Regions from separate parts of the Homo sapiens genome. Here region 2 is linked to region 1. The links come from fine-mapping of genetic effects on gene expression. Tissue or cell type: whole blood. Region 1 holds a variant in brackets; the other region holds the start of a gene. All regions are shown on one strand. Distances are between the middles of the regions.

What was found. PIP is the estimated chance that this variant, and not a neighbour inherited with it, causes the effect.
Region 2: C1orf159 starts here. The variant in region 1 is fine-mapped to the expression of C1orf159 in whole blood (TOPMed, PIP above 0.99).

What each region holds. Positions count from the first base shown.
Region 1 is chr1:1,079,128-1,087,127 of GRCh38, reverse strand. C1orf159 (chromosome 1 open reading frame 159) reads left to right here. Exons shown (of 10, transcript NM_017891.5): 7 at 1,116-1,250; 8 at 2,622-2,647; 9 at 2,745-2,775; 10 at 4,141-5,305. The coding sequence ends at 4,235. Among named protein-coding and RNA genes, the nearest start is that of RNF223, 8.8 kb to the right of the region's middle. RefSeq lists silencers at 5,028-5,207, 6,837-6,936, 6,997-7,076 and enhancers at 5,225-5,926, 5,927-6,629. The variant G/A (reference allele first, on the strand shown) is at 4,802.
Region 2 is chr1:1,111,244-1,119,243 of GRCh38, reverse strand. C1orf159 (chromosome 1 open reading frame 159) reads left to right here and starts at 3,155. Exons shown (of 10, transcript NM_017891.5): 1 at 3,155-3,184. RefSeq lists silencers at 2,485-2,534, 2,575-2,694, 2,865-3,464 and enhancers at 6,441-6,735, 6,954-7,455.

The sequences.
Region 1 (8,000 bases):
CAGGCCACAGCCACCTCTGCCGGTGTCCTGGGGGCTGGGGGCCGTCGGAGCCAGTGCAGACCCTCACCCTTGACGCAGCCACAGCAGGCTCAGGGTTCTGCAAAACAGCCAGAGGGGAGCGTGGCAGCCCCTGCAGCTTGGGGTCAGCTGGTGTGGGTGGGGGATGTGGGGCGTCATGGGGGGCTCTGCCACATCTCTAAAGGGCCGTAGTTAGGGGAGGCCCTGATGGCCACACCGCACTCTCTCAGGGTCACACAGCTCACAGCCACACGCTCTCAGGTTCACACTCATGGCTCACGGCCACACCGCACGCTCTTAGGTTCACACTTAAGGCTCACACTCACGGCTCACGCTGACACCACACACTCTCAGGTTCACGCTCACGGCCACACTGCACGCTCTCAGGTTCACACTCACGGCCCTGAGCTGGCCTGGGTCCATTGCTGACCTGAGTGGCAGTGTTTTAGGGTGGGGTTGGCCTGGATGGGCTCCTGGCCTCCTGTGGCTCTGTGCTGGGGCAGGAAGGAGCGAGGCCCCCAAGCCTGGCAAACACGCCTGTGTCTCAGGGTTGGGGAGTCTCCTCCCCAGCATCTCAGAGCACACCCAGCAGCCATTGCCAACTGTCCCGAGCCCCAGGCCAGCAGCCCTGGCCTGTCCTGGCCCAGGCAGGTGGAGGTGAGTGGGGTGCAGGAGCACCTGCTGCCAGCTTGAGGCTCTGCCCTGTGTGGGGGCCCCAGGGCCTGTGCTGAGCCCGGAGGAAGGAACAAGGCTGAGAACCCCCTGGCTTTCAGGGGCAACTGGAATCGGAGAGGTGTTTCCGCAGAGCCCGGCCAGGGTCAGCCCCTGTAACGCTCCCAACATCCGAGCTCCTGAGAGAAGCTGAGGCCGGGGCAGGTGGTAACTTTCCCAGACCCCGCGGCCAGATGCCCAGGCATGGCTGAGCCTGCAGGGATGACCCAGGCCCATGTGCAGAGCCCTCGGCACCCACAGCCGGTCCCGTGAGGCTCAGGCATGTTCAGAGAGCAGCGCATCTGCCATGTGCAGGGGGCACCGGGGGCCAGGCGAGGAGCCAGGGCCACCGTCCTGCCCGTCTGCTCAGCGGTGTCTGTTTGCAGGGGCTCCGCGCGTGGCCGCCTCCCTCTTCCTGGGCACGTTCTTCATTAGCTCCGGCCTCATCCTCTCCGTAGCTGGGTTCTTCTACCTCAAGCGCTCCAGTAAACTCCCCAGGGCCTGCTACAGAAGAAACAAAGGTATCTCCCGGACCAGCACCTGCCCCACGGGAGGGCACAGGGCAGGCGGCATCCAGCCGTGGAGATGGGCCTGAGACTGGAGTGTCCCAGGCCAGAGCAGGCTGGCAGAGGCCGGGAGGGAGCAGGGCCTGTCCTGTGGCTTTTGGGTCCCGGTGTGAGAAGGCCCGTCACTTCCCGGAAACAGCCGTGTGTGGATTTGAAGGGTCGAAGCACCAAGGGGCCTTCCTCGGGGCCCAGAACCTCTGCTGGAGCCCTCTTCCGGCAGAGGCGTCTCCCCGGGGCCCTCAGGGCATCACGAGGGGCGAGTGGAGCGGGGCTGGGTGGCTCTCGGCAGTTGGACTTGCCTGGGCTCCTCCAGCAGCCATGGTCCCCCCTCCCCTCTCCTGGGGTCAGGGCTGGCCAGGCTGGTGCAGGGCCCACACCCCAGCCTACGCCACGCCGTACACACGGTCACCCCGGGCCTGGGCACTGACCCCTTCCCACTGGAGAGACGGCCTTGTGACTGTGGTGCCTTCAGGCGGGGGCGGGTTCTGAGCAGGGTCCGTGGTGCCTGCCCTCGTTGTCCAGGGCCGGCCCCCGCAGGGTCCCTGCCAGGCAGATGGTCCAGCCAGCAGTTCGGACCCCAAGGTGAGCACTTGGCCAGACTGTGATAGCCGAGCTGGGGCCTCCTCCCAGGTCTCTGGGCAGCCCCACCTGGCTGCTGTGAGACCCCTGTCCATCCCCCTCAACCTCTCTCGGGGTCTCAGGGCCCAGCCTCCAGTCGGGAGCCCGCTGCCAGGGTCTCCTGCACAGCCAGGCACCGAGAGACCCGGCCTGCTCAGCATCTCTGCCTATGGGCACCCTTGGAGCAGAGCAGGGCTCAGGGCTTGGTCAGCCCTGGTGGCCACGGGACGAGAAGCCAGGTTGGCCACGATGCCACGGCACCCCCATCGCGGGGGCACCATGGAGGCAGAAGCCCACGGCCGTGGGGCTCAAAGCCACCTCGTGCCTGAGGCTCCTCCCGGGAGGGTGGGAGGGCAGCCCTTCCCCTGGGACCCTGGAGCCTGGGGAGACGCTTCTCATGAGGGGGGCTTGTCCCCTCTGCTGAGGCGGGAAGGTGGGTCCAGGGAGCGGGGACTCACCTGGGGTGCTAGGGAGGCCCCCGCACCTGTGAGTGCCCCGGAGGAATGTGGCAGGACCGAGGGCCAGGCTGATGCACCGCAGGGAGAGGTTGGGGGAGACCCTGCAGCCCCGGGGCCTCTGCTGCTCCGAGGACGCCGCACTGGGCTGAGGCTGAGGCAGCTCCTCGCTCTGCTGTCCCGGACGCTGCACTGGGCTGAGGTTGAGGCAGCTCCTGGGCTCCAGGGTGACTCTCCGCTTTCTCCCCCACAGCTCCGGCCCTGCAGCCTGGCGAAGCCGTAAGTAACCCACATCATCCGGGCTGAGCGTCCCTGGCCGCGTGTGCCTGTGCCAGGCCATCCCGAGTCCTCACTCTGCCTTTCTCTCCTTTTCAAGGCTGCAATGATCCCCCCGCCACAGTCCTCAGGTAACAGCAGCTGTCGCATCCCCCTGTGGGGTTTCCCATCTCTGGGCCAGTCCCAGGGTGCTCTGTGGGTTTGTCCCCAAACGGGTTTGCCTGGCTCTGGATCTCGGCCACCCCTGCCCGGGTCCCCAGGAGACCCACCCACAAGGCAGGGCCAGGGCCGGATTTGGCTGGTGCCCCCTGCTCTGGATCTCAGCTGGATTTGGCCGGCGCCCCCTGCCCGCCCCCCTTTAATCCCCGTGACTTCCATGCTCTTTCCTGTTCCCGAGACGTGGGGTCTGCAGGAAAGGAGGACCCACCACGACAGGGCAGACCCCCAATACCTGCTCCTCCTTGAAGTCCAGCTCCACCCGAGGACAGACGCAGCCGGCCTCCGCCAGGCCCTCCTGAGCAGCCATCGCTTCAGTGGTGCTGGGTCAGGCGGACCCAAGAGTCAGCCCGGTTAGGACCCATTTTATGTGCGGGGCCACAGACACAGGCTGAGTGACCGGCGCACAGCCACACAGCTCCAAGGCCATGAGCAGGGCTCACCCGGCCTCCGTCCCCCTGTGCAGAAGTCTGTCATGGGGGCAGGTGACCGTGCCTTTAGGGGACAGACCGTTCTCCATCAAGGCTGGACGTGCCCCGTCCCTAAAGCAGCCCTGTCTGCAAGTGCCCAGCAGACCCCACGGTGCCCGAGTGCCCCGGGGCTGCCAGCTTCAACAGCAGACCTTTAATCTGACTATCCTAGAGTTCAGAAGTCCAAAACCAAGGGGCAAACAAGGCCACACGCTTCCCGAGGCTCCGGGGAGGACGCTGTCTGCCTTCCCAGCCCCTGCCGGCTCAGGCATCTGTGGCTGCGTTGCCCGTCTCTGTCCCCTGGTCCCACGGCGTCTCCCCCACCTCTGCGTCTTCTCTCTCTGCCTCTCTCTCAGGTGGGCCCTGGCCGTTGTTTCAGGGCCTGCCCGGGGAACCCTGGGCGATCACACCTGAGACCCTGACGTAACCCCCTGCAAAGCCCCTTCTTCTAAATAAGGTCACATTCGAGGTCTTGGGACTACGGCCTGCTTGTCGCCCCCTGAGGTGCATGATACTCTGGGACCCACATCTCTGTCTTCGGGGATCGCCTGGCCCTTGTCCAGGCCCCGGGGCCCAGGGTGTAAATGAGAGGACACAGCCGGGCAGGAGGAAGCCGTCCCTTTCCCGAGCTGGAGCTCTGAGGGCGCCTTAGGGGCAGGGGGCATCTGGGTTCCCACCTGGTCAGAGTAAACAGCCCCGGGCGCCTGTGCCATATGCCCACTCCCGAGAGCCTCCGGTGAGGGCTGAGGCCTGCACTGTCCCTGCTGTCCAGGTCCCACTCTGACCTCGCCTGTCTCTGACCCGTTTCAGTACGGAAGCCGCGCTACGTCAGGCGGGAGCGGCCCCTGGACAGGGCCACGGATCCCGCTGCCTTCCCGGGGGAGGCCCGTATCAGCAATGTCTGACCTGGAGGCCGAGACCACGCCACGCACTTGGCGGCAGGGACCCGGAGGCCGACCCCTTGGCGGGAACCAGCACAAAGTGTTGGCATCGCCCGGCGCCCGGGACAGTCCTGGGCACAGCCTCGGCTCTGAGTCCCTCCGCCTCCCAGCGACGGACGCCAAAGGGTCCCGGGCCGCCTGAGGCTCCTCCCCACCACAGCCATCTCGTTTATCGGACCAGGAGCAGGCATCCATGAGACCTCAGAGCTTCAGATCGAGGCCTTGGGGGGTCCGGGCCCCCCCAGGAAACACGGTGAGGCCCCAGCGCCTGCAGCCAAAGCTGGCACGATCTATGGGGCAGGTGCCGCTCTGCCTAGAAAAGCCAGGGGCTCTGCTGCCGTGCCCTCCAGAGCCCACAGCGGGCAGGACTCCTCCAGCACCACCACACCCAGTGGCCCGAGACCCCTCTGAGAACAGTGAGGCTGGTCCTCGTGCCGTTCCAGCCGGTGCCCGGCCAGTGGGGAGGACACAGCCTAGGAACCAGCTGCCTGAGACCAGGGTGCCTCTGGGCTGTCCTCCCGCGTGGCGGA[G/A]ACCCCAAGCACGCAGCCACCCATTTCCGGAGCTGCAGGATAGAGCTTCCTCTTGATCTCTGTTTTTAAGCAGAAATTCATTGTGCAGAAAAGTCCTCCAGAGCTCTGTGGCCCCGCTCGGATCCGCTGGACCCCCATGCCTGGCTGATCCCTGCCCACGTGGGGCAGGCCCACATCTAACCCCCACAAGTCACTGCCTCACTGCACCTGCCAAGGCTGCCCTGGCGCTGAGTCCTGGGGTCCCTCCCGGAGTTCCTGGGAGAAAGGCGCCGTCGTGGCCGCCTCCCGCACGCCAGGCCCGGGCTCCACCGTGGGTCTCAGACGCCCTGCGGCACCGGCACCGTCTGCTTTAGCATGGGACCCCCCTCTGAGGGGTGGCCTGGCCTTCGGGGTCCCCACGCTCCTTTGCGAAGTCCACTGTGGGTGCCATCATGGTCTCCGGGACCTGGGCCAGCGGGAACGTGGGGGCACTGGGTGTGCTGATATAAAGTCGGCATTACTCAAGCTGCGTTCCGAGCTGCTCTCTCCCGTAGGATGCTCTGTTCTCTAAGTGCAGGTCGGGGAGCAAAGCCCCCGCCAGGCTGGCCCCACGCACTCCGCCACCGTGTGCTGGGGGCAAGGAGGTGGGACGGGGGTGGAGGAGAGTCCAGGTTGGGGCTGCCTGGTTGGGACCCCCCGCCCCGCGCCGCACATTTTCTGCCACAGGCCCATTCCCCAGATGCAACCTGTGCAGGTGGGACCTGTGGTCCCCGAACCCCCAGCTCGGAGTGAGGTGGGACAGAGTGTGGGTGTGCGTTTCCATCGGCCGGCCGGGCTGCGTGGGGGCTGCAGACACGGGCCCCGGGAGGGCTGCCATGGCCATCTGGGGGGGCAGCAGTGTGGGGGTGTTTGCTGACAGTGATGGGCCTGGCCAGAGAGGGCTGAGCTGGGGCAGGACAGGCCTTGAGGGCAGAGGGCCCGGGCACCAGGATGCCAGAGCGCGGGCCCTGCTCTCGTAACCGTGCCCTCCACCCAGGCAGAAACGTCCACTGCCTGGAGGGTCGTGTCCTTAGACACCTGCATCCCTGTCCCCAAAAACCCCCAGCCTGAGGTTTGCAGCCAGGGAGTATCTGGGGGAGCATTGGCTCTGCCCTGGGCCCTGGCCCAAGAAGTGTCCTGGGGCTGGGAGGGTCACTGGTCCTGGGGAGAAAGGGAGGGACTGGACAGCCCAAGGCCACTCTGAGCCCAGTACCCACCGCCCCACCTGATGCCCTGGGCCACGCCCCTGTGACGCGGGAGCCCCCAGACTCCTCCTGTGGGGAAGGAGACAGGGACCGAGATGGGAGCAGAGGGAAGGAGACAGGGACCGAGGTGGGGGCGGAGGGAAGGAGACAGGGACCGAGGTGGGGGCGGAGGGAAGGAGACAGGGACCGAGGTGGGGGCGGAGGGAAGGAGACAGGGACCGAGGTGGGGGCGGAGGGAAGGAGACAGGGACCGAGGTGGGGGCGGAGGGAAGGAGACAGGGACCGAGGTGGGGGCGGAGGGAAGGAGACAGGGACCGAGGTGGGGGCGGAGGGAAGGAGACAGGGACCGAGGTGGGGGCGGAGGGAAGGAGACAGGGACCGAGGTGGGGGCGGAGGGAAGGAGACAGGGACCGAGGTGGGGGCGGAGGGAAGGAGACAGGGACCGAGGTGGGGGTGGAGGGAAGGAGTCCACATCCCCCTGGAAACTCCACTCCTGCATTTGCACCAGGCTGGGCGTCTGGTTTGGAGGATAAAATCGGAAACAGGCACGAACAGCAGGTCCAGCCAGGCAGGGTCTGGAGGCCAGGCCAGACACAGACAGGCACCTCCCAGCCCACCCTCTGAGCAGCCCCCCAGGCCCCATCTCTCAATTCTGGGTCCCCTCCTCCTCCTCCCACCCAGTGGCCCAAACCAAAAACCCAGGGTCATCCTGACACCTCCACATATCCCCCTCAGCTGGCTCCCCACGTCCCCCACCTGCGCACTCGCGATTGGCCCTTGGGCAGCACGTGGTCAGCCAGGACCTGTGGCAGCGAGGGGCACGCCCTCCTCACTGGGCACAGGAGGGACACACTGAGCTGGGCCTAGGGGCGGCCCCAGCACGTCAGGGGCAAAGCTAGACCCAAGTGCACGTCCCGGAGCCCTGCTCCCCCGCACCGGCCTCCCCTCTGCACATCTGGGCCCTTGGGAAAGAATTCCAGTCCCACGGCCAACAGAGCCGCTGCATTTGAGGCAATGGCCCAGCACGGGGCGGGGCGGGGTGGGGCGAGGCCGGGGGCCCCACAGCAGCCTGGAAGGCCCCTCCCCGCACCGGCCGCACCACGTCCCCAGGCCTGGCAGTGCCAGGTGTGACCCGTAACCGAGGCCTGGAGGGGAAGGAGTCCCTGAGAGGGCGTGAGGAGACCGAGTGAAGGAGGTGAGGGGTCAGGTGCTCACACCAGCATCCATGTCTCAAGCATGGGCACGTGTGCTCACACACGCCCACACGCTCACCAGCCCAGCCTCCCGCCCACTGGCTGCGACGGAGGGGACCAGGCGGGCCCACCCCCTGCCCTGGAATCTGCCAGCCAAGCTGCTCTGAGCCTCCCGAGAGCCCTGAGAGACCGTCTGAGCTGAGAGAAGGGGAGCTGCTGGCTCCTCTCCTGCACAGGGAGGCCTGGCCTGGCGCCGAGACCACACATTCCTCCGGCCTTTCCTCACCTTTGCCTCCGGCACGAGTGTCAGCCGGGAGCCCAGAGTGACCTCAGTGCCAGGATATTCCCAGGAGCTGTCGGGAGGACGTTCCCAGAGCTGCAGGGGCCAGGGTGCTTCCTGGAGGCGGCATGTGACCCGAGTCACGGACCTCAGGAAGCAGGAGCCTCCGACGAGTGCTTTCAGGGCCTCACAGCGGCCCTGCACAGAGTCCCCATAGCCTCAGCCTCCCCCCACGGAGTCCCCATAGCCTCAGCCTCCCCCCACGGAGTCCCCATAGCCTCAGCCTCCCGGCACGGAGTCCCCATAGCCTCAGCCTCCCCCCACGGAGTCCCCATAGCCTCAGCCACCCCCCACGGAGTCCCCATAGCCTCAGCCTCCCCCCACGGAGTCCCCATAGCCTCAGCCACCCCCCACGGAGTCCCCATAGCCTCAGCCTCCCCCCACGGAGTCCCCATAGCCTCAGCCTCCCGGCACGGAGTCCCCATAGCCTCAGCCTCCCGGCA
Region 2 (8,000 bases), 32 kb before region 1:
GCAGTAAGATTCCACTTACACTACAGAGCCTAAATAATTTCCTCATTTGAAAGATGATTCAGTGGCAAAGCCGACCCTCTCTCAGGACAAGTTCTCTTGAGCATTATGAATGCCGGGCTGGGCACGGCAGCTCACACCTGTGGCCCCAGGTGCTGTGGGAGGCCAAGGCAGGAGGATCCTTGAGCCCGGGCGGTCGAGGCTGCAGTGAGCTACGATGGCACCACCGCACTCCTGCCTGGGCGACAGAGCGAGTCCTCATCTCAACAAAACATCCCGCCCCTACAAAACCCCATGCATTACAAACATAAGATGGTTCTATTTTAATACAAAAAATATTAGTGCACAGCTTTTTAGTTCCCCAACCTTCCCATACTGCACCTGAAGTCTCTGGGGAGGAAAGTGCTCCCTTTCGGGGACACAAACAGCCCGGTTGGCAGAGGTGGGGTCCCTGGTGTGATCTGTGGGCACCTGCGACTTACGATGCTCCCCTGTGGCTTTCAGACCTAGCATCCCTGCTATAACCTGAGGATGGGATTCAGCCCGTGTGGCCCTTAGGGGAGTAAATGTCGTTTCTGTTTTAGTCTAGAGATTGTCCTTCAACTTGATGCGACCCTACGGTGTCCTTATGTTTCCACCTGGCCTAGTGGAATCCTGCACCCTTTCGTGTTCTCGGGAATGTGCACCCCGTGCGGTTACTCAGGAGGGAGCCTCCAGGGACATCTCGCATGGCCTCGTCTCCCTTCCCCAGGGAGAGGACGAGCTATCCACTGCCCGCCTGACAGACGAGGGAGTGCCCAGTGCCCAGGCAGCTGCTGTCAGGTTGGCCCACGCCGGCAGGGGCTCTGCTCCCAGAGATCAGGTGGGTGCTGGTCTCAGAGCACAGTTCAGCAGGTGCTGGGTGGGCCCTGTTGGGGCCTGCAGCCCGGGCCCGAGGCACACACACATGCACTGCACGGCTTCCCGCAGCTCCAGGACTTTGCCTTCTTCCCTCTGACAGGGGCCAACGTGTAGAGAGGTGCAGACCACCATGAGTGACGGAACAAGGGGCGGGGACACTTGTGGACCAAGCTCCAGCATAAGGACACGGTCACCCAGGGCCACAGCCCCAGGCCAAGCCGAGGGGTAGGGACTTGACACTGACACAGGCAGCTTCCGCAGCTGTGAAACCACCCGGGAAACGCTGGTCTTCAGGAAATAGTCAAGAAAGTGGACGCCAGGCATGGTGGCTCACGCCTGTAGTCTCAGCACTTTGGGAGGGCCAGGCGGGAGGACTGCTTGAGCCCAGGAGTTTGAGACCAGCCTGGGCAAAACAGACCCCCGTCTCTACAAAAAAATAAAGAAATATGTGTCAAGGCATGGTGGCACACACCCGTGGTCCCAGCTACTCTGGAGGCTGAGGTGGAGGATCGCTTGAGCCTAGGAGGTCCAGGCTGCAGTGAGCCACGATCATGCCACTGCATCCAGCCTGGGTGACAGCGTGAAATCCTCTCAAACACAAAAAAACAAAAAGGAAGTGGAAACACTGGCTCAGCTCCACAATGAGTTGCCGCAGACGGCAAGAGCCTGTGGCACAGACTGGACTCCGAGAAGGGGACCGCGACTGTGTCCTCCCCGTGGTCCTCAAACGTCGCCCAGGCCAGGTTCCTCTTAATGGGACCGACACAGAAGCTGCACGTCCGCGGGCGCATGGCCGGAAACCCTGCAGCTGTCAGCGAACCCCTGGTGCTGGGCGCCCACGCCCAGGTGTCCCACGGCCAGACACTGGTGGCATCAACTCCTCCAGAGGCCCTGAGGGAACCCTGGGATGGACCCTCAGGCGAACACTGTCCCTCTAAAGAGAAGACACAAATGTGACTTCCCCAGCTGTCCCCAATACTGTTTACAAAACATCCTCACGCTGTTAAGATGGGGGCTTTATTTCCATTGAAATCTCTGGCATTTAAACTTGGGATGGAACCCGGAGGCGGCGTCCATCAAGGAGGAACAACCCCAAGGCGCATGCAGGACGGGCCTGGGAGCTCCCGGGAGCAAGGGAGCTGGGGGGTCTGGGGGCCTGGGAGGTTGGGGGGTCTGGGGGGTTGGGGGGTCTGAGGGGTTGGGGGTATATGGGGGGTTGGGGGATCTGGGGGTTTTGGGGGGTCTGAGGGGTTGGAAGGGTCTGCGGAGGTTGGGGGGGGCCGCGACACCTGCAGCGCCCCCCCACCCTGCGCGCTGGCCCAGCTAGGAGAGGGCCCGGGGACACCGACAGGATTGAAGCCTTTGATGAGCGGACGGACGTCCCCAGTTCCTTCGGGGAGCTCCTTTAAACATGTTTGCCGAAAGCTGCGGGCGCCGCGGGACGCACAGAGCTGTCTTTTCTCCGAGGGTGGCTCAGAGGCAGAGCCCCGGAAAAACCCACGCGCCCGGCCTGTGGGGCAGCGACGCCGCCCAGACCCCGGGGCCGCCGAGACTCACGGGGGAGCGTCCTGAGACCGCAGAGCCCTGACCCGTCCGAGAGGCGAAGCCCCGGGAGCCCTCTGGGTCCGAGCCGTCCCAGTCCCGCACCCAAGGCAGGGTCTCTCCCGCCGCGCTCCGACACCGGCCGCCGAGGTCCCAGCACTGGCGCCGGCCGCGGACCTGGGGCGCATTTGGCGGCGGCTCGCGAGGCGCTCGGGGCGCTCCGTGGGTCTGGAGGGCGCTGGCCCCGCGCGCCCGCGGCCAAACCTGGTGCAGCCGCGCCGCCTTCTCCGATGAAGCCGAAGCCGCCCCGGCCGCCCCCAAACGCTCCGCCTCCGCCTCCGCCTAAACCGGCGGAACGCTAAGGACGCCGACGCTTGTGCGGTCGCCCGGGAGACCCCGACGACGCCCCGCCCCGTCTCCCGGCAACGCCAAGCAGCCGGCGCGCGAGGAATCCGGGGGAATGTAGTCCCTCCGTGTCAGGGACCCGAGACATGCGCTGGTTCTTCTAGGACTACATTTCCCAGGGCGCTTCGCGCCCCGCCCCGGCGCCCCACCCACGGCCGCGCGCGATGGTACCACCAGGCGAGGGCGGCTCTCGCGCGGGCCGCCGGGAGTTGTAGTTTTCTTTGGGAGCTGCGGGGCCTGGCGCCGGGGCCGGGGCGGAAGAAAGACTACAAGTCCCAGGGGGCGCGGCGCCACCGCCTGAGGGCGGGGTGTACGAAAGAGAAACCCGGAGGGCGCCGGGGTGAGTGAGGGGCTGGGGGCAGGCGTGAGGGTAGCGGGTTGGGGCGCTGGGGTCCGTCTGGGCGGCCGGGTCGGCGCAGGGAGTGCGAGAGGCAGACAAAGGTCGGCGGCCCTGGCCCGGCCCGAGGGACGTTCCCTGCGCGTCCCCCATTGTGCGGCGCGCGGAGGAGCCGCCAGCGCCTGGGCCCGCGTCCTCGTCGCCGCCTCCCAACGAGCCTGGCCGCGGTCCTATGGGGGAAAGGCGCCCGGGCTGAGCGGGACGCCTGGGGAGGGGAAGGGGCGTCTGAGGAGGGCAGGGGGACCCCGGGGAGGGGTGGGGAGGGGGTCCCTAAGGAGGGGAGGGGGTTCCCGGAGCGGGGAGGGGGGGTCCCTGGGGAGGGGAAAGGTTCCCGGGGCAGGGAAGGGGGTCCCTGGGGAGGGGAGGGGGTCCCTGGGGAGGGAGGGGGGTCCCTGGGGAGGGGAAGGGTTCCCGGGGCAGGGAAGGGGGTCCCTGGGGAGGGGAGGGGGTCTCTGGGGGAGAGGGGGCACCTGGGGAGGGGAGGGGGTTCTCGGGGCAGGGAGGGGGTCCCTGGGGAGGGGATGGGACGGGCGCCCGGGGGAAGAAAGGGGGCGCGTTCGCCTCGCCTTCCCGGCAGCCGGGAGTGGGGGCACCGGCGCGGTCCCCGGTGTCCTAGAAGTCGGCCACGATTCAGGTCTTTTTCCCGCGAGGCTTTAGGATTTGTTTTTGTCCGTTTGTCACCTGGAGTAGCCGAGGGCTAGTCGGGGTGCAGTTTTTCGGGAGCGCGTGTTCCGGTGGCAGCGAGTCGATGATTGAGTTTGGGTGTAATTTAAGCCCAGGTGTTCGGGGGCATTTCTTACCGCGTTTCAAAGCAAACGCGGCTTCTTCCCCGGGAACTATTTTGTGGCTGAATTCTTAGCCGCCTCGTCCTGTTAAATTTCAGGATGTCAAACTTGGCCTCCTTTTTTTGGTTTTCATTTTTCTTAGTATTACCAGGGTGTGCAGAGAAGGCAGAGCTGCGTCTTCCTCTTTTATTTTTCCGTAAGTTACTGGGGTACAGGTGGTGTTTGGTTACTTGGTTACATGGGTAAGCTCTTTAGTGGTGATTTGTGAGATTTTGGTGCTCCCATCACCCGAGCAGTACGCACTGCACCCTATTTGTAGCTTTTTATCCTTGTCCCCCTCCCACCCTTCCCTCCGAGTCCCCAAAGTCCAGTGTATCGTTCTTAGGCGTCTTCCTGTTTCCTGATGGCTTAACCTGGGAAACCCTCGCAGAGGGAGCCGGTTTTGAGCCCCAGGGTAGGGGCGGCCGCCTGGGATGTTCAGTGATGCGCCTGATTACTCAGGTTTATGTTCCCCGTTTGCATTCAGCCAGGATCCGTCATGGCCACGTTGTTTTTAACATACATGTTTATGAATTATACAGAAACGTTGTTTTCCTGACACACATCCCGCCCCCAGTACTCCTCCTAAAAGCCAGTCAGGCAGGTGTTTCCACACGCAGTCACCTCAGCCCTGGGGTGCACAGGCAGCATCCCGGGAACCCCTGAGATACCTCCCAGCTGCTCCCTGCCTTGCGGCTGCTCTCCACCTGAGCTTTGACTTACTGGGTAGCTCATTTAAAGAACAGCTAGCGCTGTGGGTGCTGGGGTGGGAGATCGCTTGAGACCAGTCTGGGCAACATAGGGAGACCTCGTCTCTATAAAAAATAAAAAATATTATCCAGGCATGGGGGCAAGCACCTGTGGCCCGTTACAGTAGGTAGCTAGTCAGACATGAGCAGGGCAGAAGAGGGGCCCCCCTCTACCAGGGACATTTGGCTGGTAAGAGAAGGCGGCCCTGGCTGTGCGCGGTGGCTCACACCTGTAATCCCAGCACTTTGCAAGGCCGTGGGGGGAGGGGGGCGGATCAGAAGGCCAGGAGTTTGAGATCAGCCTGGCGAATATGGTGAAACCCCGTCTCTGATAAAAATACAAAAATTAGCCGGGCATGGTGGCGGGCGCCTGTGGTCCCAGCTACTCAGGAGGCTGAGGCAGGAGAATCGCTTGAACTCGGGAGGCGGAGGTTGCAGTGAGCCGAGATTGCGCCACTGCACTGCAGCCTGGGTGACAGAGCGAGACTCCATCTCAAAAAAAAAAAAAAAAAAAAAGGCCTCGAGGGAGCGTGCGCACAACTCCAGTAAACTCTGTGCATGCTCCCTCCCAAGTGCCCGCAGCCGCTGTGCGGGTGGACGGCCCACCCCGAGGGAAGAATCGGGAGACGTAACACCCCGGAAGCCTCCAGCGTGGAAGACCCTAAGTCAAAGGTCAAACTGCGCACTTGATCTCTCAGGTCTCCTGCCTGGCCTTCTTCCAAGGGCGCTTTACTTCCTTTCATTCCTGCTCTAAAGCTTCTTCATAAACTGTTGCTCCTGCTCTAAGGTCTCTTCTGCCTCCTACCCGTCCATCAAACTCTTCTGAGGAGGGAAAAATTGAGGTTCACTGCTGCTAACATGCTTTGGTGTCAGAAGTGGGACATATTCTGCCACTAACAGTCCCAGCTACTCGAGGGACTGAGGCAGGAGGATCGCTTCAGCCCCGGAGGTGGAGACTGCAGTGAGCCGAGATCGCAACGATGCACTCCAGCCTGTTTCACAAAGAAAAGAAAGAGCCACCTCTTCTCACCACTCTGGCTGAGGGTTGCGTGTGCCGAGGTGGAGTGTGGAGCTCAGGTGAGCCTTCAGAGCTCTATTACTGGCAGAATGTATCTGAGTTTCAGCACCAAAGTATGTCAGCAGCGGCCTCGATTCTCGCTGCCTCAGAAGAAAGAATTTGATGGAAGGACATGAGGCTGAAGGAGAGACTGAGGCAAGTTTTTTTTTTTTTTTTGAGATGGAGTCTGTCTCTGTCGCCCAGGCTGGAGTGCAGTGGCACAATCTCGGCTCACTGCAAGCTCTGCCTCCCGGGTTCATGTCATTCTCCTGCCTCAGCCTCCCGAGTAGCTGGGACTACAGGTGCCTGCCACCACAACCGGCTAATTTTTTGTATTTTAGTAGAGAAGGGGTTTCTGCATTTTGGTCAGGCTGGTCTCGAACTCCCAACCTCAGATGATCCACCCACCTCAGCCTCCCAAAGTGCTGGGATCACAGGCGTGAGCCACCGCACCCCACCGACTAAGGCAAGTTTTAGAGCAGGAGTGAAAGTTGTTGAAGAAGCTTTAGAGCAGGAAGGAAAGGAAGTACCCTTGGAGGAGGGCCAGACGGGCGATGTGAGAGATCAGGTGTGCGGTTTCACCTTTTGACTTGGGGTTTTATAGCCTGGCAGGCTTCTGGGGTCTTGCACCCCTTCTCCCCTGATCCTTCTTCAGGGTGGGCTGTCCACCCATGCAGCATCTTGCTAGTACTTGGGCGGGAGCATGCGCCATGTGTTCCCTGGAGGGAGGGAGCATGCCCGGTGTGTTCACTGGAGGGAGGGAGCATGCCCCGTGTATTCACTGGGGGGAGGGAGCATGCGCTGTGTGTTCACTGGAGGGAGGGAGCGTGCGCGTTGTGTTCACTGGAGGGAGGGAGCATGTGCCGTGTGTTCACTGGAGGGAGGTAGCATGTGCCGTGTGTTCACTGGAAGGAGGGAGCATGCGCTGTGTGTTCACTGGAGGGAGGGAGCGTGTGCGTTGTGTTCACTGGAGGGAGGGACCGTGCGCCGTGTGTTCACTGGAGTAGTGCCCATGCTCACCTGAGGCGTTCTTCCGTTACCTGTCAAACGTCCCTAGAAGGTCATAGAACGGTTACACGCCGCCATTTTGCCTCTCAGTGCACACGCTTGAGCCAACTCGCCCAGTTCCTGAGATCGTATCGGGAAGCTGCCCATCACCGGATTTCATGTGTTTTCTAGCTATTGGGAGCCTGTCTTTCCCTGGCGCTGGGTGCAACCAGTTCTTTTAGACAGTTAACAGCCACCTGACCATCACCTGATGGTGGCCTGACATTCCCGGTGGGGGGATGGGCCCGATCCTGCCCTGCTCACGTCTGCTGAGCCACCTACGGCAACCGCCCGACTCCGGTGTGCTGAGCCCACGGGTAGGTGGGCAGCGACTACCATGCATGTCAACAAAGGGGGATGTCTCCTTTACACCCCATCAAGGGGTTTGCGGTATTTGTTTTCTATCAAAGCACGAGAGGGATCTTTAGGTAGAGAGGCCCCAGACAGTTCTTATTGGGCCCTTAAAGCTACGTTTCACGTTGGCTTCCTTTGCTTGCTACGAAGATGACCAGCATTAGCTACACGGATGCAGTGGAAGCTCCAGCCAGCCCTCGGGGCTGTGTTTACCGAGGTTCAGCAGCGTGAGAAACCCGCCAGTGGACCCTCCCGCCTCCCCTTTTCAGTTACTGCTGCCTGGGCGGCTGGAGTTACGGTGAGCGTGGGTGTGGTCTACCCACTGCCCCAGCCGGTGGTTGCTTTTACAGGGTTGTTTTGCAAGATGTTACTTATTTAAAATCACAGTGACCTGAGGCATCATTTTTTTCTTGAAACCAGTTCTTTGTTGTTGTTGTTGAGACGGGGTCTGGCTCTGTCGCCCAGGTAGAGTGCAGTGGTGCGATCATGGCTCACTGTAGCCTTGACCTCCCAGGCTCAAGAGATTCTTTCACTTCAGCCTCCCAAATAGCTGGGACCACAAGTATACGTCACCAAGCCCAGCTATTTTTTTTTTTTTTTTTTTTTGGTAGAGATGAGATCTCACTCTGTTGTCCGGGCTGGTTTTGAACTCCTGGGCTCAAGCGATCCTCCCACCTTGGCCTCCCAAAATGATGGGATTGCAGGCCTGAGCCTCCACACCTGCCCTG